4 separate regions of the Homo sapiens genome follow, and regions 1, 2 and 4 are each linked to region 3. The links come from fine-mapping of genetic effects on gene expression. A gene starts in region 3. Each other region holds a variant in brackets. All regions are shown on one strand. Distances are between the middles of the regions.

Region 1 (8,609 bases), 22 kb before region 3:
GGGCACACCTTAACCCTGGGAAAATAAACTTTCTAAACTGACTTGAGAGCTGTCTCAGATATTTTGAGCTTACAGTTATTGTGAAATCATTTTAATTATAAATTAAGTGGAGATTTACTTAAAATCATGTGTAGAAGTAGCCTGTGATATAGTCCTAGATACATACATTATCATCTTATGTATCTTCCCTCCCTCTTCCAGGTTCTGATAAAAACAGATGAAATCTGAAAGACCATGACAGTAGTATTTTGAAAATGACAGTATTTGAAATTAAAAAATTGTAAAAGTGTTCTGTTCTATCACTGCCAAAGGATAAGTTACAAATTGGTTCTTGGAACGTAATATGTACTATGTGCTTGCTATTTAATAATTTACCAGTCTTAGTCTTTTTTATTCAGACTAATTTTACCTTTTTTTAACCTATGACTCTTTAGTTATAGTAGTACAAAAAAGTAGTTTTAGTTATAGTTTTAGTTGTAGTACAAAAAAGCATTTTCTGTAAGCTTAATTTCTTTCCCCTTCCCGCTTTCCCAGTCAGATGACTTTAGTGATTTGGAGTTGTGTGCTTTATAAGTGCATTCCTCAGAGGACTTAATATTACTAAGATTTTAGCAAACACTGAAATATGTTTAAACACTGTTATCAATATTAAAATAGCACCGTTTATTGACTTTAATATGTGACAACCACTGTGCTGAGCTATGTATGCTTCCCTTATTCAATCTATGTAAAAATTTTGGGGAAGTAGCTGAGACTTTTTTATTTCCCTGACAGAGCTGGGATTCAGTGGTTGGTTTCTTGAAAAAGCTAGGTTCTTTGCCTAACAGCAGCTTAGCTCCTCAATTTAGGGAATGAAAGCAGGAATGAAAATGGCCAGAGTTTTCGCTCCTCAGCTTGTGGAGGAGCTTGAGTACATGAACCTCAACTAAGCCCCTAACATCAAGGGAAGGAAAATGGAAAGGAGAATTTTTAGACCTTTAAAGCAGAGAAATTACTGGTGAATCATGTAGCACAACAGGTACCTTTAGCTTTTTCACTGTGATGCTGTATGACTTTCTAAGGTAGTCAGCATAGTTTGTAGTAAATGATTCTTATTACTGGAAGTGTAAGTGGAGTGTTACTCACTAGTTATTTAAAAAACATTTATAAGGCTATTAAAACATCATCTGGAATTAAAGCAGCATAATTTACCCCATCCCCCACTTTTAACCATAAAACCCTATTACCAATTTTATTTCATTAATTTATTTGCTATTTTAATATTTTAAGAAACTACATTTTAATCACATAGACAAGCAGATAAGTAAGGCTTCTTCTACCAGGTGGGCTTATGAAATGCAAAATAAGCAAAAGGAGCATTTTTTTGCTCCCCACAGAGGCAAAGACATCTTTTAACCTAACTCTCCTAATGCATGATGGTAACAAACCCAAAATGAATGCAGGTTCACATGTACTATAATTGTTGGGAGTCGAATGCATGTATTCTTCAGGTTCACTTCTGGAAATTTAGATAACTTATTTATTACACGCTTTATTTGAGTTAAAGATAAAAAACAATATACTTTTATGTAAATTGCTATGGCAATGTAGTTTACAGTAATTCCTTTTATATATACTTCGTATTATTCTTTTAGACATTTTATAAGGAATAAAGCTAATTGTATATTAAGTTTAACAATAATCAGAAAATATTCTCCAAAAGAATTTCCTGAAGTGGCTTGCTAGGTATAAAGCTCATAATTGTCAAGATACTTATATTAGGGACATGAACCCAAGTCGTTAAATAAAAATAAGATATTTGTAAAAAAGTGCTATAGAAGAAGGTGCACAAAAAACATGCACTTACACATACTTTCCAAAAGGATGTAAACTGTACTTTTAGGCACTGTCATCTCTTCAAATTTCCTTTACCAATGATATATAGCACAATTTTTGATGTCTAGATGGTGCTGTAGGAAGATGACTAAGGCAACCACGTGCAGAAAAGCATGTGTGTGATGCACAGAAAATATAAAGATTGCATTCCAAAAGTGAAGGTCTGCAATGATAGTTTGTTATCTGAAAGGTTTGGAGTGTCTTGTCATTAAAAAATGAAATATACGCCACTGGAGTCATATCACAAATGGTGCCTGATGTGGACACTCTACCTTTAAAATGACTTTTTAAACAGGCAGACATTTCTATGCTGTTTTATAGGTGGCTATGTGACTTCAGTACTTTATAATAAATAGCCAGTCAATCTTGAGAGCCAGCTACTTCTCTTAAACCCAAGTACAAGATATAAATATTCAAAATATGGAATGTTTAACATAGAGACTCGAATGAAAAAATGACAATCTTCAAAATTCCCCATGTTTTGTCATATTGCATAGCTGAAAATTCATCTACTACTTAGTAAAAAGTGCTCTGTTCATTCAAGCTGAATTTTGCTCCAGTCTCCTTCAGTTTCCATCTTTCATACTGAATAGTGGATCCACAAGTTTATTGTGCACATGCATTAGACCTTAAAGAAAAAAAGCACAGTTCTAGTTGTTTTTATTAATTTTGAACTATCTCATTTACTTTAGACAACAAAGTATTTTTTATAAGACACAGTAAGCCTGTTTAGTTCCCATCTTGATATAGTCAAGTTTATTGAAAAAGTACAAATAGAAATGTTTCAGAATGTCTTAAGTTTTATCTACCTAGCAAATACCAATTTATAATTATGTAACAGTGCAGATCTAGAATGTGTACAGGTACTTTGGGAGTAACCAGAAGAGCATTTCTTGTCTTCAAAGAGATTAAGCATGACAAATTTGAATACTGACTTAGATAATAGGTTTTAATTATATCTAAAAGTCTATGTTGATATTGATCCTCTGGCAGTTCCTCTACTAGACTCCAGCCAGGGGCTCAGAACTGCTGTCTCACTCTTAATACATTACCCTATCCATTCGTCTGGTAAATTACTTTCCAATAGTTTGGCATGTGTATTTATGACAAAGGTTGATTACAAATTCTACACTGAGGGAGGGTTACTAAAACAAGACAGAAAACAACCTGTATTAAATCATTTAATTCAGAATAGAAATTACGATTTTAAATCCGGTAGATTATAACTTTCATTTTGTAATTGGTACATATACTTGCAGACTGCTCTTAGCTATGGAAGCTGCTTGGGAAATAGCTGATCTTCCAGTTACTCCTGTTTTAATGCCTCAGTACTATATTTCTTTGGGGAGAAAAAAGTTCTAAAAAGACTGACCCAGTTAATGAACCAGAGATTTTATATTTTGGAGGGTAAAGAAATGAGTTAAGTTTTCCAGGTATTAAGAACATGGGAGGGTGGGGAAAGGCACTTAATGCGGTTTTGCAGGAAATGGGATTACTGGATTGGAGAGATAGGTTGCTTGTTAGTAAACAGATGTTCCTTGTCAGAAAGGCTGCAAAAAGGACTCTAAAATCCCAGCTTTGAGAAAGACCCACTTTTAAGGGACAAGCAAAGAGTACTGGGAAGTGTTTGTGTAGTAGGAGAAATTCTAACCATAAGAATGGGACTCTAAAGGAGGGAAGGGGGAAGCATTCCATTCACTAGTCCTGCAACTGCTCAACAGCCTACTTGAAGGTCACCTGAAACTTCATGTCCAGTAGGAGAGGGGACAACAAAGATAAGGGTAATATCAGCTGTATGATTTAGAAGATGCAACATTTTCCAGAGTATCACTTTGTAGAGGATCGTTTTTCTACTTAAATAGTATTCATCTGTCATTTGCTAACAACTTTGATTACGGAAAGAATACACAGAGCTTTAAAA[T/C]ACATGCAAATTAAAATATCAGTAAATATTAAAAATTCAACTCCTTTATAAAATTTTTTTCTTTACATTGGATATATCTTTTATACATCAAATAGGACTGCTTCCAAACTAGAAATAATTATTTTGAAAATTCTATTAATTGCTTTTTAGATATTAAGTCAAATATTTACTGTGACTTTAGGTAAAAACTGACAACTTTCTACATACGAATTTTATATAAATAAATAATTGCTACTTAAGTCAAACAGAAATAATTCTTCTGATAAAAATGCACCAGACTTCCTGAAACGTTACCAGAAGAAAGGTTAAATGTCACAGATTCTAACCAATGTCTATACAAAGTAACTTTTATGGTTTTGACTCAAAATGAACTCATTCTACCTTTGTCAAACTACTGAGGTGGAGCCTAAATACAAAGTAAGAGAAAAAAATTCATGATGATGATGTCATATACTAAAAATCAAAGCTGTTCTATTTAAAAAGCAAAAATGAAAAGCGAGAATGAATAAAACAAATCCCCACGTACTAAACTTGTTGTCTTGTGATTAACTTGTATCTTTCAAAAGGTATATACCGTTATATAGGTATATATTGAAATAAACTTGCATTTACTGACAATTTTTATTGTTTTGGATCTAGTTAACCTAGATCTTATCTAGGCACTAAATAAAACCCTTTAAGATTCTGGTCAGCACTTTTTAGTGATGACAGAAGAAAGGGTAGTGATGTGAATGGAATTTGAAGAGTTATGGATGACAATTATAGGAATTTACATCCTCCAGTATTTTGATATACTAGTAACTCAATGGAGGTATGAAAAGTATACAAACTACATTTGAAATGTGTTTATTTAAGAATATTCAATTTCTCTACCCTTTACTAAAATGCTGTAAAATGAGGCCCATATGTAGCCCAGAATGTCTAAATTCTGTCTTCATATTGAAGGAGGTATCCTAACAGGCTGATACCCTGAAACCTCTTCAGAAATACAGACAGCTCCAAAGTGGAAAATACTGTGTCCTCTTGATGCAGTGCAGCTATCCTCTCACGAATGGTCTGTTTCAAAATTTTTCAGAAGAGCTTACAATTAGATGAACTAAAAGAACTAAATACATATAAACATCTACCACCCTTCTATTTTAAATTATCTAACATATGTCGATATACCTTTTTTGGAAGCAGTGATTATCATATGGGAAAAAAGCAGATGGAAATATGGTTTTGATGTAGATGGTATCATACCTAGAGTTTATTCTGGGAGGCAGTATAATAGAATAGACAAAAGCCTGCATACTCCAGAGATCAGCCTGATTTTGATTTCTATTACCCAGCTCTGCCCAAATATGTGCTGTATGACTTTGGGTAAGTAGCTTAACGTCTCTGTCTGTTAAGCCTATTAATTTAAAAATGGGACTATGAATACCCATTTCATAACATTTTTGTGATAAGTAAATCAATAAGTAAAATGCATTTAGAATAGTGCCTGGTCATAGAGATACTGGCTGTTATTAAATATCTTATTAAATATTCACCAAGATATAAAAATCTGATAAAAACCTAATTGTGACAAAATTAGATTAGTACAGGGATTTATCTGGGACTTAATGAGGACTAGAAAATGGCCATGTTAAATGAATCTCCTTAAAACTGGAATTAAAATTTGTGGATAGTGAGGATTCCTTGTAGTCAAGGAATCTATTATTTGGGATGAAATCTGAAGGGTTACATGGGAAAATAGAGTTAAAACTCCATCAAATGCTCTTTTATTCACAAATCAGAAATTTTTCAGTTTTTCAGTTTTTCAGTTTGATATATTTGTGGCTTGGTAAATTAGTAATTTAAATGGTAAAAATATAAATGACTAGAAATAATCTAAGTGTTAATAAGGAAATGTTTAAATAAATTATGATTTATGTACTTAACTATCCATTAAAATGCTTCCAAATATTTAGTAAAACAGGAAAATGCTCATGAAACATAAGTACAAATACAAAACTATATACAAAGCATGATCAGCATTTTGTTTAAAAATAGACTATTTTCAGTGCTTGCCAAATGTCAGTTATTTGTATAACACCTTCAAGATATTTGCCATATTCACACATATACATGAAATATGAGTTGGTTTTCTTTGCATTGAATTAAAAATTTAAGATTATATACTTTATTTCTGAGTATGAGATGCTATAAATTGTAAGACACACCATTTTATGTACCACTGAGAAAAAAATGCTACCCAGTAAGCTATGATCTGACACCAGTTTTAAGACACAGTCCAACATCAGCAAGATCAACGTGTATTAGAGCCAATCAAATATGGTAGCTTTTTTGGACCTTGTCTTAAGCAATAATATCCAAAAAATATAGCTTTGATTTATTCAGTGTATTTTCCAATAGGCATTAAAATAAATACCTAGTTACTAGAGTAAAAAAGATTAAAAGGTATAATCATGTAGCAAAAGTAGCATACATACTACATAGTGAATCACTGACCTATCTATATGATCAACTATGTAACTTTTAATATCAGCTATGTAAATACAGGTGCTTTATGAAAATTACCTGTTTGTACAGTTTGCTTACATATGTGTAATATGTGGAGCTGACTCTTAAATCAGAGAATAGGTTCTACATTGGGTATAGGCAAAATGTCCCTTGAAAATCTCTTAAAACCATTATATCAAGCATATGTGTTTTGTAATACACAGCCTGGTAGAGTAAGGTTTCTGAATTACTGAACTAGACTACAGGAAAAAGGAAAATCAACATGAAGTCTGGGCAATCAAACTCCTGCTTACTTGCAGAGTTTATTCCATACTATTTTAACATTTAGACATTATAACTTTAATATATGGGAATAAATTGGCTTAAAATTGTAAAGATTAAATTAGATAGTGGGAGATCTCTTATCCACTGATTAGGTTCTAAATTAAGGTTAGAGGGGAGTGAGGAAGAGGGATTGAGGTGGGACTAGTAAACATGAAAAGAAATCCAGAATGGACAAAGATACATTTTCTTTTGGGTTATTTGGTCTTGTATATTCAATATGAAAGTAAATTATTAAACCTTGGATTTCAAGAAAAATTGTTTACTGAAAATAGAGACTGAAGAGATTCTCTTCATGAAAAAAAAAAAAAGGTACTACTTTGAAGATACTATTATCTGAGGTGAGAACTTTCCATTACTTGAAAGAACTAGCTATGTGTTGCCACTTTTCAATAGGTCACAGTGTGAGATTTAACCCCACAGTCACAGTAAGTTTTAATTGTCACTCACAACAGATTATCTCAGTCGGCTTTTGAAATTCAGTGCTCACCTTTAAAGTATTTCACAGTTTTAACTCTTAATTCTAAAGTAGCATCTTCATCGCATACAAAAATAGTCCGGGGATGCTGCTGGAAAGCGGAAACAGTCCACATGTGATTGACTCCTTCTTCTATTGCTTTGTACAGGGCAAATGCCTTGTGTGCCCCTGTTATAAGGATCATTACCTGAAAAATTATGAACATCAATTGTTAAAACTTGTTCCAAATGAGTAAGAAGCTCTATTTTTTTTAAACGAGAACTTAAGCACCAATATTTTTTTCTGAGAGAAAGAAAAATACATAGCTCCACATAATAGTTCAAGGTATTCATTTCTACTTTTTAAGATTAACAAGCACAAAATGTTGCTTCTAGTTTAACAAAGCAAAACAATATCTTGTTATGGGTTATTAATGCAAACACTATAATACCTGTAACTTTTAACATAGTGAATGATGATGTATAAAAGAAACCTGGGACAATGAAGAAAAAGAAACAAAAGGACTGTGTTGCAAAAGCAGAGTTACAAATCTATAAATAATTTATACAATCTAGAATGATACACCAAGTTGCTGTAGTCTAGATAAGCAAAAGATACTATGTCAGAAAAGCAAAGACTCTAAAACAACAGGTAATTTGAAGAGTTATCAAGAAAAGCCTGAAGAGCATTTCACTGAACATGTGCTATTCAAAGTTGACTCAGAATAAAAACTGGATTTAAAAAAGGATTAGGGATCTACTTAAACATAGGAACTGTCTTATAAGCACATAGGAACTGTCTTATAATCACATATGACTGATATTACCCTTATAAGCTACAGAAAATCCAAGCTCTTGGTCCCCAGGCCCTAAATGCCAATGAAATAATGCAATGACATGTTGCAAATGTGAATGTGTATGTGTCGGAATCTTTTCTTTATCATGTTTAAGCTGGAAATTGATCCCATTTAACACCTCATCTACACACATATTTTTGTAATATAATCTTTAAACTTTTTTTCCTCATTACAATTGTTTTAAAAAACAATGTTAAAATTGCTGTAGTTCTAAAATATAACAAATTTTGTATTACATATTTTATAACTAGACCTAAAATGGGAGGAAATACTCTGCACTCTCCTTGAATTACCTCAACTCCTCAAAACACCACCATGAGAGAAATACTATTCTTACTCATATTTTAAAGATAAGGAAACTGAGGCATATTCTGTAACTGGCCCAAGGTTTTGGTAAGATACAAACAAGTAGTTTTTTTCTACAGTGCATATTCTTAGCGATTAACAATTACATTACATTGCCTCTTGTAAAAGTTCTAACAATTAGACAATATGAGCTAAGAGTCTTTTCATTATGGATGCACACTCTAAAAAGGTAATGGGACAGGTGGCAAGAAATCTCAACATGAAGTATATATACTGAGGAAAAAAAAGACAACTAAACTTTTATTGGTGAGAAAAGGTAAGTACATACCTGGCATTACCATTATGAAGGGAGTGGAGGGAAAGGAGGC
Region 2 (5,000 bases), 87 kb before region 3:
CACGTTTATGAGTAAAAACATGTGATATTTGATTTTCTGTGCCTGGTTTGTTTCACTTAAGATAGTGATTTCCATTTCCATCTATATTGTTGTAAATAACATGATTTTATTCTTTTCATGGCTGAATGGTATTTCATTGTATATATACCACATTTTCTTTATTCATTCATCCATTGGTGGATACTAGGTTAATTTCATATCTTTGCTATTGTGAGTAGTGCTTCAATAAACATATGAGTGCAGGTATCTTTTTGATATATTGACTTCTTTTCCTTTGGATATATACCCAGTAGTGGGATTGCTTGATAAAATAGTCATTCTATTTTTAGTTCTTTGAGAAATCTTCATACTGTTTTCCATAGAGGCTAATAATTTACATTCCCACCAACAGTGTGTAAGAGTTCCCTTTTCTCTACATCCTCATCAACATCTGTTACTTTTTGTCATTTTAATAAGAGCCATTCTGACTGGGGGAAGATGATATCTCACTGTTGTTTTAATTTTCATTTCTCTGATGATTAGTGATGTTGAGCATTGTTTCATATACTTGTTGGCCATTCGTATGTCTTCTTTTGAAAAATGTCTATTCATATTCTTGCCCACTTTTTTCTTTTTTAAAAAAATTTTGTATTTCCATAGGTTTTGGGGGAACAGGTGGTATTTGGTTACATGAGTAAGTTCTTTACTGGTGATTTATGAGATTTTGGTGTACCCATCACCTGAGAAGTATACACTGAACCCAATTTGTAGTCTTCTATTCCTCACACCCCTCCCATCCTTTCTCTCGAGTCCCCAAAGCCCATTGTATTATTCTTATGCCCTTGCATTCTCATAGCTTAGCTCCTACTTATAAGAGAGAACATACAATGTTTGGTTTTCCATTCTTGAGTTACTTCACTTAGAATAATAGTCTCCAGTTCCATCTAGGTTGCTGCAAATGCCATTAACTCGTTCCTTTTTATGGCTGAATAGTATTCAAAAGTGACTAATATCCAGAATCCACAAGGAACTCAAACAAATTATCAAGAAAAAAATTCCCATCAAAAAGTGGGGTAAGGACATAAACAGACAATTCTCAAAAGAAGATATATAAATGGCCAAGAAACGTGAAAAAATGCTCAACGTCACCAATAATCAGGGAAATGCAAATCAAAACCATGATGCGATACCACCTTACTCCTTGCCCACTTTTCAATGGGATTGTTTCAGGGTTTTTTGGCTGTTGAGTTTCAGGATTTTTTTTTTTTTTTTTTTGGCTGTTTGTTGGCTGTTTTTATTGCCGATTCAATCTTGAATCATTATTGGCTGGGGGCCAAAGCCAGATGGAGCTGGACTAGGCAAGCTTGCACTCAGGCCCGCCAGTCATGAGTGCATGTACCAGCCATGACAGGTGAGGGCAAAACAGTCCATCAAAAAGTAGGCTAAGGACATAAACACAATTCTCAAAAGAAGATATACAAATGACCAACAAACATATGAAAAAATGCTCAGCATCACTAATGATCAGGGAAATGCAAATCAAAACCATGATGCAATACCACCTTACTCCTTGTCCACTTTTTAATGGGATTGTTTCAGGGTTTTTGGCTGTTGAATTCAGTTCCTTGTATATCTGGTTTTTAGTCCCCTGTCAAATGAATATTCTCCAAATATTTTCTCCCATTCTACTGGCTGTCTCTTTACTCTGTTGATTATTTCTTTTGCTGTGCAGAAGTTTTTAATTAAATCCCATTTGTCTATTTTTGTTTTTGTTTCCTATGCTTTTGAGGTCTTAGTCATAAATTCTTTGCCTAGACCAGTGTCCAAAAGTTTTCCCTATGTTTTATTCAAGCATTTTTATAGTTTAAGGTTTTATGTTTAAGTCTTTAATCCATCTTGAGTTTATTTTTGTATATGGTGGGAGATAGAGGTCCAGTTTAATTCTTCTGCAAATGGCAATCCAATTGTCCCAGCACCATTTATTGAAAAGAGTGTCCTTTTTCCAACTTATGTTGTTGTCAGCTTTGTCAATGACTAGTTAGCTATAAATATGTGACCTTATTTACATGTTTTCTATTATGTTCCATTGATCTATATGTCTATTTTTATAGCAGTACCATGCTGTTCTGGTTACTATAGCCTTGTAATATAATTTCAGGTCAGGTAATGAGATGCCTCCAGGTTTGTTCATTTTTCTCAGAATTGCTTTGGCTATTCAGGCTTTTTTCTCCTTCTGTATGAATTTTAGGATAGTTTTTTTCTAATTCTGTTAAAAAATGCTGCTGGTATTTTGATAGTGATTGCATTGAATCTATAGATTGCTTTGGGCCTTATGGTCATTTAAACAATATTAATTCTTTCAATCCATGAGCATGAGATGTTTTTCCATTTGTTTGTGTCATGCACAATATTTTTTCATCATTGTTTGTCATTTTCCTTGTAGATATCTTTCACCTCCTTGGCTAATAAATGTATTCCTAAATTTTGCTTGTAATTATTGTAAATGAGATTGCCCTCTTGATTTCTTTCTCAGCTAGACAGTTATTGCTGTATAGAAATGCTACTGATTTTGTATGTTGATTTTATATATGTATGTATTTTATACATATGTATTTTATATATGTATGTTGAATTCATTTATTAACTCTAAGAGGTTTTGGTGAATTCTTTAGGTTTTTCTAGAAATAAGATCATATCATCCAATTACCAATTTGGATGGCTTTTATTTTTCTCTCTTGCCTGATTTCTCTAGATAAGATTTCCACTACTATGTTGAACAGGAATGGTGAGAGTGAGCATTCTTGTCTTGTTTCATTTTTTCTTA[GA/G]AAAAAATGCTTTCAACTTTTCACATTCAGCATGATGTTATCTGTGGATTTGTCCTAAATAGACTTTATTATTTTGAGGTACATTTCTTATATTCCTAGTTTGTTGAGGGTTTTTATTATGAAAGGATGTTGAATTTTATCAAATGCTTTTCTGCATCCATTGAGATAATCATATGTTTTTTGTCCTTGGCTCTGTTTATGTGATTTATCACATTTATTGCTTTACATGTATTAAATCATCCTTTCATCCCTTGTATAAAACCTACTAAATCATGGCATATTATTTTTTGATGTGCTGTTGCATTTGGTTTGCTAGTATTTTGTTGAGGATATTTGCATCTATGTTCATCAGAACTATTGGTCTAGTTTTTGTTGTTGTTGTGTCCTTGTCTGGTTTTGGTATCAGGTGTTACTGGCCTTGTAGAATGACTTAGAGAAAACTCCCTCCATCTGAATTTTTGGGAACAGTTTCAAGAGGATTAGTATTATTTCTTTTTTGTACATTTGGTAGAATTCGACTGTGAATTCATGTGGTCCAGGCCTTTTCTTTGTTGACAGACTCTTTATTGCTGATTCAATTTTGTCACTTATCATTGGTTGAGGGCCAAAGCCAGATGGAGCTGGACTGGGCAAGCTTACACTCAGGACTCCCAGTCACGAGTGCATGCACTGGCCATGACAGGTTGGGGAGAAACAGTCCTCAGGCCTCTGGTGGAATTCTTGGGTAAAGTGTAGTCACCACTGCACTGAGGTCCTTCCATGGGAAGGGTGGGACCAGTCCCAGTGGCCTTAGCCTTGGCCAGTGAGTAAGAGACTTGCTTCCTTCTTACAGCCCCCAGTCCAGACAGGTGTCATAGCCAACCCAACTGTTGCCCCTCAGTTCATGCTCATGGCCCATAGGAGTCTCCACTTAGCTCAACACTAAGCCTTCATGGCAACTCTCATCCTGCTCAAGTAGGAGGAGCAGTACCTGCTTCCTGCACTGGTGGCTGCAGCCCATGCCACACTAGCTTCTTAGTCTTGGTTGTTAGGGCCAGCCCCTAGTTCACACCCCGGTTCTGCAAACACCAGCCTAAGTTTCCCTAATGCCTAGGACTGGAATTCTCAGGACTTCACACAGTCTGTTAAGGGCTAAGATCTAGAATGGTGTCTTACTTTAGCTGCTTGGGTTTCAGAAAGAGCATGGAACCCAAGGCATGCTCCCTCCCTAAAGCAGTTCCTTCTCACAGTTTCCTGGTTGCTTTCTAAGTTAGATCTAGGGTTTGAGAGAGTCAAGGTGCTCTCCCATAACCTGAATTATGCAATTCCCCAGCAGGAAAGTGGACCACGTATAGACTCTCACTCACCCTCTCCTGTACTGGAGAGTCATTCCTGGTTCTTGGCTGGTCTTGGCCATGTATGCTGCCTATTTTCCTTCCCCTTCCTAGCTTTTGGTGTTTTCTGTCACTTTCCTGTTGAATTCCAATGTTCTGCCTTGGATAATATATTAGAAGTGTGATTGTCTACACACCATTTTGCTTCTTCTAAGTGGATAAAACATGCTTGAAATGCTTCAAGTCAGCCATCTTGAATAAAAAAAAGAGTCCCTTTTTGAAAATGGGCAATTCAACTTTGCCAAGCCATAATACCTCTTTGACATGTTTTTGCTTTTTATTTTTATTCATTTTAAGTTGTTTTTACCTTAAAGAATGGAAAGAAACATAGAGCTGCCCAGTAACACGTTTTAAGTTTCTTTCATAAAAGCCCTTGGGGTAAACTGAATGTACAGTCCAAGGTTCTGAACTTGGTAACTCCTTGTGATTTCTTTATGATAAAATATTTACAAAATGGCCTTTAGTACTTTCCTTCGAATGTTAATCTTAATATGAAATCTAAGAATAACATATTCGACCTCCTTTATGTGAGTAAGCCTGACCAAGAGAATAACTTATTTAGGAAAAGAAAGCCACAGATATAGAGGGGGGAGATATACACTTAATCATTTACTAACTCAAATGTATGCTCATTAAGAGCAAGAGCCTGGTGTAATAATATTTGAACCTGCCAGAATGTATGGTGATTACCTGCTATTATTGTTCACTTAGCCATATGTAATATTCCTAATCTATTTTCCAGCAAAATAGGCACATCATCAAAAACACTGGTAGAAACAAATTAGCAATAGGAATCCGAATGGCTTTTTTATTGATAAAAATC
Region 3 (8,609 bases):
TCCAGAACAAGTTCAAACCTGAGAAAAGTCCATTGTAGAACACTTTACATAATAAACAGATAATTTAAATTCAGTAACTTTTTAAAAGATGTAAATAATAAATAGAGCACTGAAACAGAATATACTGATGATTTTTAAAAGTACATTACTGAAGAAGGACATGCACATATACAATCTGAATTTAAAAAATAGTAATAGCTGTTCTCTTTTGAGCAGACACTGAGTTTAAGGCAGTGGGCTAGGTCATTTAAGTATAGTTAGCCTTCTGTGGATTCCATATTCGAGGATTCAGCCAACCAAGAACTGAAAATATTTAGGGGAAAAAGATGTTTGCATCTGTATTAAACAGGTACAGACTTTTTTTTGTCATTATTCCCTAAACAATACAGTATAACAACTATTTACACAGTATTTACATTGTATTAGGTATTATAAGTAATCTAGAGATAAAGTATATGGGAGTATGGGTGCAGGTGATATGCAAGTACTATGTCATACAATATGAGGGACTTAAGCATCTGTGGATTTTGGTATCTGAAGGGGGATCCTAGAATCAATCCCCAACAGATACTAGGGACAAGTGTACATATTTTAATCCTTACAACCATCTTGTGAAGTAAATAAAATGCCCAGTTATAGATGAGGAAATGGACTCACATAATTTGACTAAGGTCACACAGGTAGTAAGCAACAAGGTCAGAATTCAAATTATAACAATAGGATCACACTAGACATGTTATTTTTAATAAGAGAATTCAACAGAAGAAAAAGAAAACAAAGTGAACTAAATAAACTGCTCATCTCTGGAGGAGAAATTTCTTGACAAAAAGCAATTTTAGTTCCTCAAAAATTATTCTAAAATTAAGAAAAATTATTATACGTATATTAAGAGATCGGAGTCACTTAAAAGCTACATAATTCCATTTTACACAATGTAGGTTGACTTATACCATGAAAGATGTGGAAATCAGCATTCTTACAGTAACTCACAGCTTCTGTTATCTGTAAGACATATTGTTTTCCTTTTTTTTAAAAAAATGGTATAAATTTAAGGGGTACAAATGCAATTTTGTTACATGGATATATTATTTAGTGACTAGGTCTGGGGTTTTGGTGTATCTATCACCTGAATAATGTACAATGATCCTAGCAATTTCTCATCATCTACCCACTCCTACTCCCCAACCCTTCTAAGCCTCTAATATCAGTCTACTTTCCATCACCACGTGTACACATTATTTAACTCCCACTTGTAAGTGAGAACATGTGGTATTTTTCTTTCTATTTGGGAGTTGTTTCACTTAAGATGATGGCCTCCAGTTACTGCAAAGGACATGATTTCATTTTCAATGGCTGAATTTCGCGGTGTATATATATACCACATTTTCTTTATCCAATCATTCACTGATGGACACTCAGGTTGATTTCTTATCTTTGCTACTGTTGTTATTGGAAGGAAGGTCATGAGTGTGAGGTGTCCAGTTCCTTGGCATTTTGAACAAAGAACTGCACAAAAGGAACGAAACACAGGAATGAAGCAGCGAAAGCAGGGATACTGAAGCAAGAAAGCACCCCATGGGGTGGGAGTGGGCCCAAGCAAGCGGCTCAAGGGTCCGGTTACAAAGTTTTCTGGGTTTTAATACTCCTTTTGAGGTCCCTTATCGGTTACCCCTTATCTGCATGAAGGATTTGGTCCGTGGCTAATTAAAGGCTGAGGTGAATTGGCTCCCTATGCAGATGAAGGGATGGCCCATGCTTAGTCCACGGACAATCCAAGGCACTTTCCCCTTCCATCTGAGAGGTGGTGGAAGGCAGTCGATCGTAGGGAGAGTAGCCTTTGGTCCTTTGCTACTTGGGCATGGGGAGATGGGTTTTTTCCTTTTGGTCTAGCTTTAGGAAGTTTGCGTTAATTGGTTAACTGGCTTTAGGTTACCTGCCCCCAGACGCAGGTGTTTTCTCTTTTAGGAAGTCAGCACAAATTGGCCTTAGATTTCCTGCCCCCAGACCTTGGTGTTTTCCTTTGATTTAGCTTTAGGAAGTCAGCACGAATTGGCCTTAAGTCCTCTGCCTCCAGACCCTATTCTACTGCCTCACTGTGAATAGTGCTGAGATAAAAATGAATGCGGGTATCTTTTTGATATAATGAATTATTTTCCTTCGGGTAGATACCCAGTAGTGAGATTGCCTGATCAAATGGTAGTTCTATTTTCAGTTCTTTGAGAAATCTTCATACTTTTTTCTACAGAAGTTGAACTGACATTACCATCAATAGTTTATAAACGTCCCCTTATAACATTTACTGAACATTCTGTAATAATTCCCATAATTCTTAGATTTTTAATTCTTATTTTTATATTAAATGGATCAGTCACCAATACCAAGCTTTTTATAACATGGTTTCAGCATTCCTGAGTTTTGTACCCACACACTTTACATAGAGTAATAAGTCAAATTTTCTAAATTAATGAGATTAAAAGGTCTTATTAAAATAAATGTATGGAATCTAAATGTCTTTAAGAAGGTAACAGTTTCGAATTCTGACACAACAACAAAAAATCATGGTCACCATGATCTAGAATTCTGGCCCGATAACAATTATTTATTTACAGAAAATAAATTACATAGTAAGTCATAAATTCAGTCCAACAACTGGACTCAGCCTCCACTTAAATATAATCCATAATCTAATGTCAAAAACAATTTTAGAGTTAAACCAAAGAATCAGAAAGAATTATTGGCTGTAATGAACATCAAAAGATATATTTACTTCTAACAAGAATATATGGCCAGCTGATTGTTAATAAAACGGAAAAAAAATAAGGTAAGGAGGACGAGAAGCATTAGAGCTTTCCAATGTCTTCTGCATCCTGGGCATGTTATTTTTCTCAGTTCAACACACGTTTGAAGACCTATTATATTCTAAGCACTATGCTAGGTTCTGTAGACACAAAAATGATTAACTCTATTGTCAAAGGGCTTAGAATCACTTGTCTCTGAGGTTGAAAGCATTATTCTCACTCTTCATATACAGAAAACTGCAACTACGAGAAGTTTATTGCTGACGTTAAAAAGTGGCCCGGGGAGCTGGCTTTAAAACTAAGTGTTTCTGACTCAAAGAGACATTAGCCAAAGATGTCTTACCGGTTGAGAATCACTTACGATGCTAGTTAAAAATACAGATTCTCAGGTCCCTCTCCCTAGACACAGTGTTTCAAAAGATCTGAAATGAAGTCCAAGGAATCTCTGCTTTTGCAAATTATCACAGGGGATATTCATAATCAGGTGAAATTTGTTAAGAACACCACACATCTCACTGAAACGAAGTTTAAGCAAGTCTCTCAGACCAAGGTACAGGCAACTTTTTGTTTTCTTAAACTCTCTGGAGGGCGCAGAGTCACCTCCAAAAGTCCCAAATGAATCCCTTCACCCAGAGCAAAGAAGAATTTCTTCACCACATTTAAGTTTTTAAGATTTGACTTTTCCAGTTTTTGCCAATCCTCAGAGATCCAAACTATTGTCGCCTTATGCAATTCTCTGGCATCACAAGACAGCATCAAAAAACAACAGAGCACCACCCTTTCCCTCGTCTTCCTTCAGGTGCTGATTCATTTTGGATGTGCATCGCTAGGAAAAAGGGCTGCTGAATATAAATCGCAAAACTTCAATGGTGGATGACAACTTCTACACCCGTGAAGTTACACAGCTAGTTAATGGCGGGGCCAAGACCAGAATCTACACTTGCAGAACCTCTGCTCTGAGCTTTTCCCTACTCAACCTGACCTGTCCTGAAAGCGTAAGGGTGGCCTGGCCGCGCGTGTGGGACCGACCCGAGGAGGGACGAGAGACAGCAAAGAAGGCTGTGGTTCCTGCCCGGGAGGCGGGGGCTGCAGATTCCCCTCAGCTGCGCGTTTGCCTGGCCCTCACTTGGCAAAGGACAGCGAATGCAAATGAGGATGACTGTTAGGAATTTTTAACGAGTGTAGAGAGAGGTGTCAAGAAGAAGCCGCGAGAGAGGAGAGGGCAGGGACGCCTTCTCCCGTAGGCACAAATCCGGAGAGGACAACCAGGTCCGCGAGTGGCAATACGGGAGACCCCACGCGCCCCCAGCCTCGAGGTTCCTGAGCACCCATTCCGCCCCGGCCCGGCGTCCCAGTCTCAGCACAAAGGCCGCACAGGGCGAAGTTGCCGTCGGGTCCCCCGACCCGAGTCCCCTTCTTGGCGCCCCCGCCGCACCCCCCGCTAAACTTACCGGCAGACCCAATGGTTCTTCGATGCTGGAACAGCGGGAACAAGCAACACCCAACCACCCGAGAGCGACCCCAGCTGACCAGTGGAGCGCGAATCCCACGGACCCGGATGCAGATAAAGGCGCAGGAAGGAACCGCGGCGTGGCTGGCGGGCGCTGCGCATGCGCACCGCCTTTAGGACGCCTGAGGTGAGACGCGAGGAGTTCGGTCCGAGTGCGGTGCGGCTGGGCGCTCTTCTTGCCTGGAAGATCGCAGTTTCTGGGTCATCACTTTACGCTACTTTCCCCTCCCCCCCATCTTTCAAAGAGGGATTTGCAGTAGATTCTTTAGGCTTATGAGATTTAGTATGTAAGACCGTAGTGCTCACACGTACTTTGTTGCTTATGTTGCTGTTTGGCAACATGAATATATTTGCCATTTATGAATACATTTCTCTCTCTACTCCAAGCTATTGAATGCATATTTGCAAACGCAATGACAGATAAGCGTCTTGTGTCAAAAAACTCATCAAAGTTTGCAAAAGGGCAAACAGTACCATGGGAAATCGGGAGCGTCTCAGTAAGAGAAAACACTATATAATAGGGTACTGGCTTTTGCTGAATGAGTCTAAGAAAGGGATAGGGGAAGCTGGAATCAGCTTTGAGCTGGGTATCACAGATGTTTATACAGGAGTGGGAAGGAATTGGGCTGTGGAAATTATTGTAAAGAAAGCAGCTATCATTCAAAAGGAGAAAAGTGTGTTGTGTCTTCACCATGTTCCATCAGGAACACTGTTCCATTAATAACACCGTTTAGGGTTCTGTTAGGAACAATACAATCTTGACTCCTAGCCAACTTAAGGTTCTGTTTCTGTGGAAACTACAAGTTAAAAAAATGTAAAACGCTGTGTCCTCAAACTCGTTATATGAAGTTTTTCACCTGGGTTGTAAATCCAGCCTGCTTCTTTGAATGTAATGACTCCTCTTGCATCCTTTAGTGAAGAGTAGGATGTTACATTCTCGTTGATTTAGCTTCAAACAGCAACATTGCTCACATACTGATAATAGACAGGTTTATTAGTACTATCGCCTTCAGTAAGTTTGCAAAAGCGATTTTTGGCCAGATTCGGTGACTCACGCCTGTAATCCCAGCACTTTCAGAGGTCATGGTGCATGGATGGCTTGAACCCAGGAGTTGGAGACCAGCCTGGGCAACATAGCAAGACCCTGTCTCTCCAAAAAAGATTGAGGTAAAATGATGAAGTAGTTTGTAGGCTATGCATAGAATTTAGGCTTTGTATTGTAGGCAATAGGGAGTCACTTAAGCTTTATGAATTGAAGATAAGAGACTAGAACATACGTGTTTTAGAAAGAATGCTGTAGAAAGGTGGAGACTGAATTACAGTCTTGAATTACAGATATGTGCCACATAAGGAAGTTTAGGTAAAGAATGGACTGGATATTTGGCAATGGTCCCATAAGATTATAACAGAACTGAAAAATTCCTATCACCTAGCGACATTGTAGTAAACGTAAAGTTGTAGAGCAACACCACTCGTGTTTGTGGCTACATAGGTGTAAACCTACTGTGCTTCCAGTCTCATAAAAGTCTAGCACATACAATTATGTACAGGATATAATACTTGATAATAAATGACTATGTTACTGGTATATGTATTTGCTATATTATACTCTTTATCATTATTTTAGAGTGTATTCATTCTATTTCTATTTTTATTTTTATTTATTTGTTTATTTTTTTGAGACAGAGTCTCGCACTGTCACCCAGGCTGGAGTGCAATGGCACAATCTTGGCTCACTGCAACCTCTGCCTCCTGAGTTCAAGCAATTCTCCTGCCTCAGCCTCCTGAGTAGCTGGGATTACAGGCAGCTGCCACCACGCCCGTCTAATTTTGTTTTATTTTTAGTAGAGACGGGGTTTCACTTATTAGCCACGCTGGTCTCGAACTCCTGACCTCGTGATCTGCCTGCCTCGGCCTCCCAAAGTGCTGGGATTATAGGCGTGAGCCACCATGCTTGGCCCTATTTATATTTTTAAAAGTTAACTATAAAACAGCCTCAAGGAGGTCTTTCAGGAGGTATTCCAGAAGAAGGCATTGTTATTATAGATGAGAGCTCCATGTGCATTATTGCCCTGATGAACTTCCAGTGGGATAAGATGTGAAAGTGAAAGACAGGGAGATTGATAATCCTGACCTTGTGTAGGCCTAGGCTAACATGTGTGTTTGTGTCTTCATTTTAACAAAAAAATTTGAATAGGAAAAAAATTAAAAATAGATTTTAAAATAAAAAAACTTATAGAATAAGGATATAAAGAAACAAAATATTTTTGGACAGCTCTCCAATGTGTGTTTTAACCTTAACGTTGTTACTAGAGTCAAAAAGTTTTTTTTTTTTCTGAGACAGAGTCTCACTCTGTTGTCCAGGCTGGAATGCAGTGTCGCAATCTTGGCTGACTGCAAACTCTACCTCCCAGATTCAAGCAATTCTCCTGCCTCGGCCTCCCGAGTAGCTGGGACTACAGGCGCATGCCACCACACCCGGCTAATTTTTTGTGTTTTTAGTAGAGACGGGGTTTCACTGTGTTAGCCAGGATGGTCTCGATCTCCGGACCCCATGGTCCCCCCTCCTCAGCCTCCTATAGTGCTGGGATTACAGGCGTGAGCCACCACTCCCGGCCAAAAAGTTTTTTAAAAATTTAAATATAAAGTAAGAAAGCTACAGGAAATTAAATTTACTATTGAAGAAAAAAAACATCGTTTTATAAATTTAGTGTAGCCTAACTCTACATTGTTTATAAAATCTACAGTAGTGTACAGTAATGTCCTAGGTCTTCACATTCACTCACCACTCATTCACTGACTTACCCAGAGCACCCTCCAGTCCTGCAAGCTCCTTTCATGGTAAATGTCCTATACAGGTGTACTGTTAATATTTTTTAATTTTTATACTTTTTTTTTTACTATACCTTTTCTTTGTTTAGATATGCAAATATATACCATTGTGTTACATTGCTTACCGTATTCAGTAATATGCTGTACAGGTTTGTAGTCTAGGAGCAATAGGCTATACCATATATGTGTAGTTTGTGTATATATGCTAGGTTTGTGTGCATATACTGTATAACATTCACACTATAATGAAATCGTCTGAAGATGCATTTCTCAGAATGTATCCCCATAATTAAGTGATGCATGACTGTATGTTATGAAGACTCCAACACGGAACGACTCTGAGTGTACCTTGTATTTTTCCTACCCAGCCTTGGTATCAGGCATTTCACTAATAGCTGATAGTTGTTTTATTAATCAACAATGGATGTTGAATTTTGTCAAACACTTTCTATGTATCTATTGAAATGGTTGTATGGTTTTCCACTCTAATATGTTGGTGAATTCAATGTTGAGTGCACTTTTATTGCTGGAGAAAATTAGATTTGGTCATTGTTTTTCTTGGTCAGGGTCTTTCTTATACATTTATTGTTGGGTTCAATGTTCTAAAATTTTGTTTAAAAATTTTACACCTATGTGTATGAGGGATATCAGTCCATAGTTTTTTTGTTTATTAGTTTTTTTTTGTGTGTGAAGTCTTTGTCTAGTTTTAGTATCATAGTAATAACAAACTTATAAATTGAGTGGGAAAATTTCCCTCTTCAATGTTTTGGAATAATTTGTGTTGAATTATAGTAACATAATGTATTCTTTAAATACTTGATAGAATTCACTAGAGAAGCCGTACGTACATAGAGTTTTCTTTTTTGAAAAAATTTAACTATAAATCCAATTTCCTGAATAAATACAGGATTATTCAGGTTATCTATTACATAATTTTCATCGAGATGTAATTCACATACTATAAACTCAGGCTTTTAAAGTATACAGTTCAGTGACTTTCAGTATACTCACAATGATATGTAACCATCACCACTATCTAATTCTGTTTTTCTATTTCTATCCCCCACCCCACATCAAAAGAGACCTCATCACCTGTTAGCAGTCACTTCCAATTCTCCCTCCCCTACCTGATTTCCTGGCAACCACTAGTATACTTCCTCTCTCTGTGGATTTGCCTATTCTAGATATTTCATATAAATGGAATCCATATGTGGCCTTTTTTTGTCTTGTTTCTTTCACTTTGCACCATATTTTCTAGCTCCATCCATGTTGTACTTCATTACATTTTATTGCAGAGTAATATTCCATTGTGTTGATATACCACATTTTGTTTATCTACTTGCTAGTTAATAGACATTTGGATTGTTTCCTGCTGCTATGAGCATTTAAACAAAAGTTTTTGTGTGAACATTTATTTTCAATTCTCTTGGATATATACCTGGAAGTGGAATTCCTCAGCCATATGGTAA
Region 4 (8,228 bases), 210 kb after region 3:
TTGAAATTGGAGAGATAGTACCTTTCCTTTCAAAATACACCTTTTTATTTTTTTCTTCTGGATGTGTATCAGTTACTTTAGGTAATTTTTACTTTTTATCAAGGTTTTGGATGTATACAGCTTCTTCCTTTGTTGTATGTTTTTGTCTTCTGTAGTGTTTTTTTTTAGTTTTTGTGGATATGTAGTAGGTGTATCTATTTATGGGTTACGTGAGGTATTTTGATATAGGCATGCAATGTGTAATAATCACATCAGGGTAAATGTGGTACACGACACCTCAAGTGTTTTTCCTTTGTGTTACATACAATCCAATTATACTCTTCAAGCTATTTTAAAATATACAATTAAATTACTTTTGACTATAGTCACCCTGTTGTCCTAGCAAATACTAGATCTTATTCATTCTTTCTAACTAAACCTTCTATTCTGGTAAACTTTCTCTTGCATTGAAAGGGAACCTTTTCTGTCCTTGTCTTTAAAGCAATGATTCTCAGTGAAGGTGATTTTGACCTCTAGGGCACATTTGGCAATGTCTGGAGGCATTTTTAGTTATCATGATTGAGGGGTTGCTACTGGAATCTAGGGGCTAGAGGAAAGAGATGCTGCTAAATATCCTGAAGTACATAGAGACCTCCACAGCAAAGAATTTTTTAGTCCCAAATGTCAGTAGTGCCAATGTTGAGAAACCTTGCCCCAAAGTATTGATCCTGCTTTCTTGGTCAGACAGGCTGGCCCCAACAGGTCACTGTTTCTCTTCCTTTGGGTTCCATCTAGTTCTGAAACTAAGATGAGCTGGCATAAGTTGTCCTATTTATAAAATCTACTACCCTTTTGACATAACAGACCTTCAACTGTTTAAACAGTTCTGTTATGTGAGACAGTGCCATGTAAAATGTGGACTCTGTACTAGACTGTGTAGTTCAAATCCAAATTTCTCCATACATGAGTTATATACCTTAGTTTACATTTTCATAAAAGGATCATCATTGTCATTGTCATAGATAATATTAGTAATAAAAATAGTTACCACATAGGGGTTTTCAAGTTAAATAAATGAATATACATATACATACGTGTGTACATACATGGACACATAGAAAAAAATGGCTATGCTAATTTTAGACTTCACCAAAGGAAGCATAGCATGTTCAACAATAATGGAAAATAGATTTCATTAAGAGCTGTAAATGTTACACAAATGTTATTATTCTTTGTCCTGAGGTTCTTTTCCCCCTAGATTAAATAATTCCACTTATTTTAACTCTTTAGCAAAGAATATGGTTTGTGTCTATCCTCATTGGGTCCCTTATTTCAAGTCACCTCTATGTTGTTAGTGTCGTCCTGAGGTGGAAAAATCAATCAAGATTCTGCATTGGGTTCTAAGGTTCATCTGTTAGAGCCACTCATTTATTAAACTTATCAAATGAATCCTTTTTTTTCTTTCAAGGAGAAGGACCTTAAGGAATTTCTCCTATTTTGTGGGAATCAGCATGATTTCCTATAATTGATTAATCATGAAAAGATCAGTAAGGTGAGAGTGAATAGGCTAATATTCACAAGCTTAGTGAACAAAATCAACTCTCTATGACAAAGGAGATTTACAAATTGAAGAGAACAAATATATTTTTTCTAGAACAAGCATTTTAACAAATGTAGTTGCTTACTAAGTGAAATAATGGTCTCAAGAATACATGTTAATAGTCCTTAGATGACAACATAGAATTTTGCCCTTTTTAGATAGATTTAGAAAGAAACTTAACCTTGCATTGGCAAGATACAAAAAATAAATGTAATGTAAATATTGTGGTAATTAATAGGTTTTTCATTAAGAATTAAGACTTGTGGCCTCTGGTTCAAACATATATTTAGTCAAGATTTAACAAAAATGATTAAAGCATATAATAATTTATTTTTGTATCCTACAAATACAGAACTATAAGCAACATTATTATGCTATTGAATCATAGTCAAAAAGTCCATGTTTTTGGCATATCTCATAAGGTGCCCTTCTTATTTTGTGCTTTTGCATTTGGTTATAGAAAATGTTATCAATATCTTTAGTAATATTACTTGAGTATATTTTGTATCTTAACTAAATTATCCTTTGTGCTAATTGAAGTGTTGTACAGAGTGAATGGTAAGGATGTGGACACTGAAGCCTGTAGTCTGAGCTCTAGGTGTGTTACCTTCAGCAAGTTATTTAACACCACTTAGCTTCTGTTTCCTATACATAATGTGGTGCTACTAATACTACTGTTTATATAGGATTTTTGTGAGTATTAAATGCATTCATATATGTAAAAGCATTTAGAACATTGACACATAATATATATTAGCCATCTATAATATCAGAAAATTATATTCCCTGTAAACCGAGAAAAAGACTGTATTAACTGTTTCCTGCAAGAACTAAACATGCAAGCAGCACAAACATTTTCAACACAGGAGGAGGGAGACATTATGGCAAACTTTGTTTTGCTGATTTGAAGTTTCATAACACTAGGCAAGAATGCATTAAAGCCTCAAAACACTAGGCAAGAATGCATAATCAGAAACCATGGCTTATCAACTCTTCTCAGAGATTCCAAATTT[G/T]GGAGAACAATAATATTGATTTGTTAAAAATAGCTTTTCAGCATTCTGCAGACCTTCAGGTGCACAAAATCATTGCAATAAAATGTTTAAATTTGATTTGAACTCAAAATAATATGTTAGCTGCAAGGCCAAAAATGACTATTAATCCTTTTAAGATGACCTGCATTTTGGGTAAGTTTGAGATATTATAAGGTGGCCATGACCCACAAATTTGTGCTTGTTTTAGTTTAGTATGCTTTTGTATGCTAAACATCAAAATAACTTTTTTTCTTATTCACTCTCCAGCAAAATGGTGAGATTTAGTTCCAGTAGCAATAATAATAAAGACATTATTTATGGGGATTTTACTTCTGAGCACTGTGTACCTTATATAGGTATTGTTCCACAAATAATTATCGAATTAGACTTCAACAAAGTCTTAAGACTTTCAAGAACTGTCAATGAAATATATATTCCCATATACTCTTAGTGTGATTTATCTGGTTGCCTGAACAGTAGCCTCCAGTCATTACATATTTTATAAAATATTCAAGCAAATACATGCTAAAACTGACTTAATTTTTAGAAAGAATAACACTAGAAAATGTATTTAATATTCTTGTATTTTGCTAAAGCAATATATTTTAGGGCTGTTGACATAGGAGAAAAAGAAATGATGAAACAGAAGATATTTATCCTGAAGGGAAAGTCTTTAAGAAAATGCAGGAGAAGAATGGAAAGAATGAAGTGATGATAGCAAAACTCAGGAACTGAACAAATAGAGTAGAATAGTTTTGGGCCTTGAATGTTTATTTATTTAAGGTTCAAGTGATTTTAAAACCAGTCATATTTGAAAAGTTTAAGGATTCCCAGAAGCAGAAGAAATTCTAGATGTAACAGGGCATATTTGGGGTTTATCAAGGGCTGAACTCTGAAGATTTATAAGCTAATTTATTTGCAATCACTGCAGCTGAATCAGATAGAATGTAAAATACTTTTTACACTGCTAGCTTCAACCACCTGTTTTTTGAAAATCTAAATGTGCTACTACAGCTATGGAAGAGAGAAAGTAAAAGTTTTGTTGAGAAGAGGAAAGATTTGTTTTCAGCTAGAATTTGTGCTACAAATCTTCTGGAACTAGGTTTTTGGTGTAGAAATACGAGTGATGCTTGAGCTTCTACTGCTGAGTACATTACAGAACAAACATTCTCCTTGGGAATTGATTTTATTGGACAGTAGGTTTCAGATAGTAAATAAGCATTAGTAAATGCCTTTCAGTCTAACAGTCTTCAAAATTATATATATATATATATATATATAAACACATAGATACACACATATATATACACATGCACACATATATACACATGTAAATATTATTACACACATATATCTATACAAATATATGCATATATATGACCATATATGTGATCCAATTTGATCTTTATAGCCATCCTGGTGATGTGGACACATTAATGTATTTTCATATACTTTTAGAAAAGAGAACTATCTTTGCTACACAGCTATAGGTAATTCTTGGTTCACACATCAGTAAAATGATATAGAATTCAGCTTTTTCTCATGACTACTGATTTTTCTGTGTGGACCATGTAGGGTAAACCCTGCACTAGGTTCTCATCCTGTCTTCTTTCCTCTCATATCCTACTATCTCTGAACCATCTATTTCTATCTCCGCATTGCTTTCAAAGTTATTATCTTTAAACACTGTCTTGCTTAAAGTCTTTGATGTTTCCCTATTACTCATGGAATGGAGTGTACATTTCTCATTAGGATAGTCACAGACCTGAGGATTGGCCTCTAATTTGCCTGCACATTTTTACAAACTTAAAAAATTATCCTGGACTAATCATTAAGTCATTATCTTCAGTACTTTTAAAATATTAAACCATACATATTTCTTTTAAGCTATATTTCATTGTCTGACCCACAGAGATTCTTAAAGCTTTTCATATCCTAGCTTTTCATTCATTTCCTATCTGTGATCAACAGGACCTGAAACATATATTTAACTTAAATCCAGTGCAGTATCTTGCCAGATAGAAGGCAGTTACATGCTATAGAGAGGGTACAGGAGGCTTCCATGCTGAGGAACAAGCAAGATGAGTTGGTGAAATCCAGTCAATGGAGAAAAAAAGGTAAAATGGAGCAGCCCAGTAAGTATAAGATTAGTAAATCCTTCTGTAGCACTTACTGTATGCCTCACCCTATCTAGGCACTTGGCATATGTTAACATCATTTAATCCTCACAACAAAAATTTTCCTGCATTTATTTATTTATTTATTTATTTTGTTTAATTTGCTTTTTATTTTGTAGGAATGACTTTTTTTTTTAATTATACTTTAAGTTTTAGGGTACATGTGCACATTGTGCAGGTTAGTTACATATGTATACATGTGCCATGCTGGTGCGCTGCACCCACTAACTCGTCATCTAGCATTAGGTATATCTCCCAATGCTATCTCTCCCCCCTCCCCCCTCCCCACCACAGTCCCCAGAGTGTGATATTCCCCTTCCTGTGTCCATGTGATCTCATTGTCCAACCCAAATGTCCAACAATGATAGACTGGATTAAGAAAATGTGGCACATATACACCATGGAATACTATGCAGCCATAAAAAATGATGAGTTCATGTCCTTTGTAGGGACATGGATGAAATTGGAAACCATCATTCTCAGTAAACTATCGCAAGAACAAAAAACCAAACACCGCATATTCTCACTCATAGGTGGGAATTGAACAATTTTCCTGCATTTAAAAGGAAGGTGAATGATTTACCCGAAGTCATGTATCTGTAGAGTGGGTAAACTGGGATCTGAATGCAAGCAGTCTGGTTATCCTGGAACAATTAATACCTAATATCCAAGATATGATGACATAAGACTTCACTCCAACTTCCAGTTCAAATTCCCATCAGACCTAGGTATAGTTTGTTTCTTATCTTTGATTTTTTGAGGATATATTGTATAAGATATAGCCTCCTTTAGTGCTAATTTGAATATATTTTCACTTGTTTCATCCAAAATAGCCTTAGTGAGACTTGTTACTTTCCACGAAAAACATTTTCATTTTTAATGTACCTTTTCAGTGTGGCTTTTCCAATGTATTTATCTGTTGAAATTGTAAAGGTGCTTTATGATCTAGCCCAATTCCTATTTGTGACTTTTTAGAAATTTCACCCCAAATTAGTATTGTTTTTACACACCTTTGTTCTTAGTGCACTTCTTATTCTATTCAAAGCCTTAGACATTCTACTTTTGATATTTTAAGTTCTGTATCTATTTCCATAATACTACTTTGAACCATATCAAATTGTCCCGAGTATTAATATTGTACAAATCGCCGATACTTGACTATTTTTGACTTACTAAAATGGCAATTTCATGCAGATCAATTTATTATATTGGAAGAAAATTTACTGACAGAGAGGTATCTTAATGATCTTTACACCCTGAATATCTGATTAATGGTAGGTCTTGGTATATTTTGGTGAAATTAAATATTTGTTGGATATAATAAAATTTTCGTACTTAAATATAATTTTCCACAAATAGTCTCCTGGAGATAATAAAATGTGTGGAAAAATAAATCCACTATTTCTCCTAGTTTTCTATTTCTGAAATTGTTAGTGTTCATTCCCCCCAAAAATGCCTGAAATTATTCGGTGTTCTTAATTATGTATGGATAACTACAACTGGGGACTTTAATTGGGCTGCATAAAACATAACAAGTTCACATTTACAAAAAGTGCATTCATAGGATTTTATTATTTCCCAGTAATATCCAGGTAAATCAGTCAAAATATTACAACTGAAATAAAGTCCTAGATCTTAAGACGTTTACAGAATAGTGAGGAACTACATATAAATGGAGTTTTTTGGAAGCTCGGAAGACTAAATCTGATAAATCTGTATCAGGCAGTTATCATGGAAGATTTCATGAAGAAGTTGCTCTGAATTGGGATTTGAAGGATGAATAGGAATTAGTCAGAATTGGAAGGAATATGGAGTGTTGAAGAATATTACAGAAAGAGTGTGGATAGAATTTAAGAAAGCTTCGGAGACCTGCAAATAGAACTATGCAGCACAGGGTGTGAGTGGAGTTGGGGGCAAGTGACAAGAGGGCTCATTTAAATATTTAAGTAGAATATTAATATTGCATAGTTTGTGCTCTCTAAAAGTAAAAAAAAAAAAAAGGAATTATAAGAGAATGTAGAAGGTTCTGGGTTAAATGAAGTGGTTACTCTGACTGTATTGCGGATGATGTAAAAAGAACTGGGGAGACCAGCTTCGGAGATTACTGTTACGATCTGAATAAGGACAATAAGAACCTTGAATAAGGATGTTGCCAGTTCAAATCAGTTGGACCGTGGATTTGACAAATGTAGGGAAATTAAATTGGTAGGAACTGGAGACAATCAAAGGCTGAAAATCACTCTATTTGCATATTCTATAAATTACCAAGTAATGTATTTATCTAGAATTAGCCTGGATCGTTGAGAGCTCAAGTTAACTGTGAATGATGCTTGCAACAAAATCCCCCGTGAACTGAATATTTTATTGAAAATGTGTGTACATAGCCTGGAATAAATTGTTATTTCTCCGGAGGCAGTCTTCTGAATGAAGTTTCATATAAATTAAACATTTCATGTTGATGAGCAAAACCCACTTCAAATTAAAACATGAAATAATATTAATTAAACAAAAGAATGCTGTAAATTGATGTTGGCATACATCTTCACCTTCGTTTATTTTTTATGAAACTGCATAATTAATGTTCCTTTTAAAAATGAAAGATTAAATACCATGTTGTCATTAAAAAACGTGTTCCAGCCTGCTGTTATTAGATAAAGAAGGTGATTATAAGGAACAAGCTGAGAATGACAGGAGGATGCTTACTGTGTCAAATTCATGTGTTTTTTTTTTTAATCAGCATCATGTGGCGTTCAGAAAAAATATTTTTTATAACATACTCTTTTTTATCTTTCATTTAGTTCAATCTGAAAGATATTTTAAGGTAGGCAATCAGAAATAATAAATGCATTTATAAGTAGATGTAAACCTGGCCCATATGCATAGGGAAATGATAAATTTTAGTCCACTGAACCCAATTTATTTGCATTATTACCTGTTTTCTACAAGTTAAAGAATCTTTAAATAGTTCATAGGCAATAAAAGGCAAATTTTTCATCCTTTACACAGTTCTTCACAATGTTTCTTGGCACAAGAAAAGATGATGATAGGAATAAAAAAATCTTAGAAACATGTCAAAGCTTCCTCTTCATAATAGGCACCTCGGCTTTCAACATGTCTCTTTTTCCTTGCTTAGTGGGCTGTAGTACATCTTAAGGCCAAATCCAAGTTTGAGCAGGAGCATAAACATTTATCATAGTGTTAATTTTGTCAAAAACTATACATTGAGAATTTAATGTGTGTCAGTTGCTGGGCAACTGTTTATTGGTGCTAACAGTGAAGAAATAATATTGTGCCTGCCCTCGTGGAGCATCCATTCTGTAAGAAAAGACAAACAAGTGGCAAAGCAATCAAATTCATGTGATAAAATTGGGGTGATGGATCAATGAGGAAATAAAACAAAGGCAGTTCTCACTTATCCATCAGATAATTGAGAATTTTGCT

Direction of the effects. Alleles are on the strand shown, and positions count from the first base shown. SD is a standard deviation of normalised expression in the study named. Not every link is listed here.
As copies of C replace T in region 1, the expression in tibial artery of the gene that starts at base 4,332 in region 3 goes up (moderate effect, 0.48 SD a copy in GTEx).

What was found. PIP is the estimated chance that this variant, and not a neighbour inherited with it, causes the effect. A credible set is the group of variants that fine-mapping cannot tell apart.
Region 1: its variant is the best candidate, but not a certain one, in a credible set for the expression of GNPDA2 in tibial artery (GTEx, PIP 0.67).
Region 2: its variant is the best candidate, but not a certain one, in a credible set for the expression of GNPDA2 in atrial appendage (GTEx, PIP 0.68).
Region 4: its variant is the best candidate, but not a certain one, in a credible set for the expression of GNPDA2 in skeletal muscle (FUSION, PIP 0.66).

What each region holds. Positions count from the first base shown.
Region 1 is chr4:44,700,640-44,709,248 of GRCh38, forward strand. It overlaps GNPDA2 (glucosamine-6-phosphate deaminase 2), which reads right to left. Exons shown (of 7, transcript NM_138335.3): 6 at 7,113-7,287; 7 at 1,156-2,503. The coding sequence ends at 2,442. GUF1 (GTP binding elongation factor GUF1) reads left to right here. Exons shown (of 17, transcript NM_021927.3): 17 at 1-289. Among named protein-coding and RNA genes, the nearest start is that of GNPDA2, 22 kb to the right of the region's middle. The variant T/C (reference allele first, on the strand shown) is at 3,797.
Region 2 is chr4:44,636,975-44,641,974 of GRCh38, forward strand. All of the region lies in intron 2 of YIPF7 (Yip1 domain family member 7), which reads right to left. Among named protein-coding and RNA genes, the nearest start is that of YIPF7, 12 kb to the right of the region's middle. The variant GA/G (reference allele first, on the strand shown) is at 2,804.
Region 3 is chr4:44,722,225-44,730,833 of GRCh38, forward strand. It overlaps GNPDA2 (glucosamine-6-phosphate deaminase 2), which reads right to left and starts at 4,332. Exons shown (of 7, transcript NM_138335.3): 1 at 4,250-4,332; 2 at 1-18. RefSeq lists a silencer at 3,748-4,042 and an enhancer at 4,535-4,664.
Region 4 is chr4:44,932,356-44,940,583 of GRCh38, forward strand. No RefSeq gene overlaps it. Among named protein-coding and RNA genes, the nearest start is that of GNPDA2, 210 kb to the left of the region's middle. The variant G/T (reference allele first, on the strand shown) is at 2,593.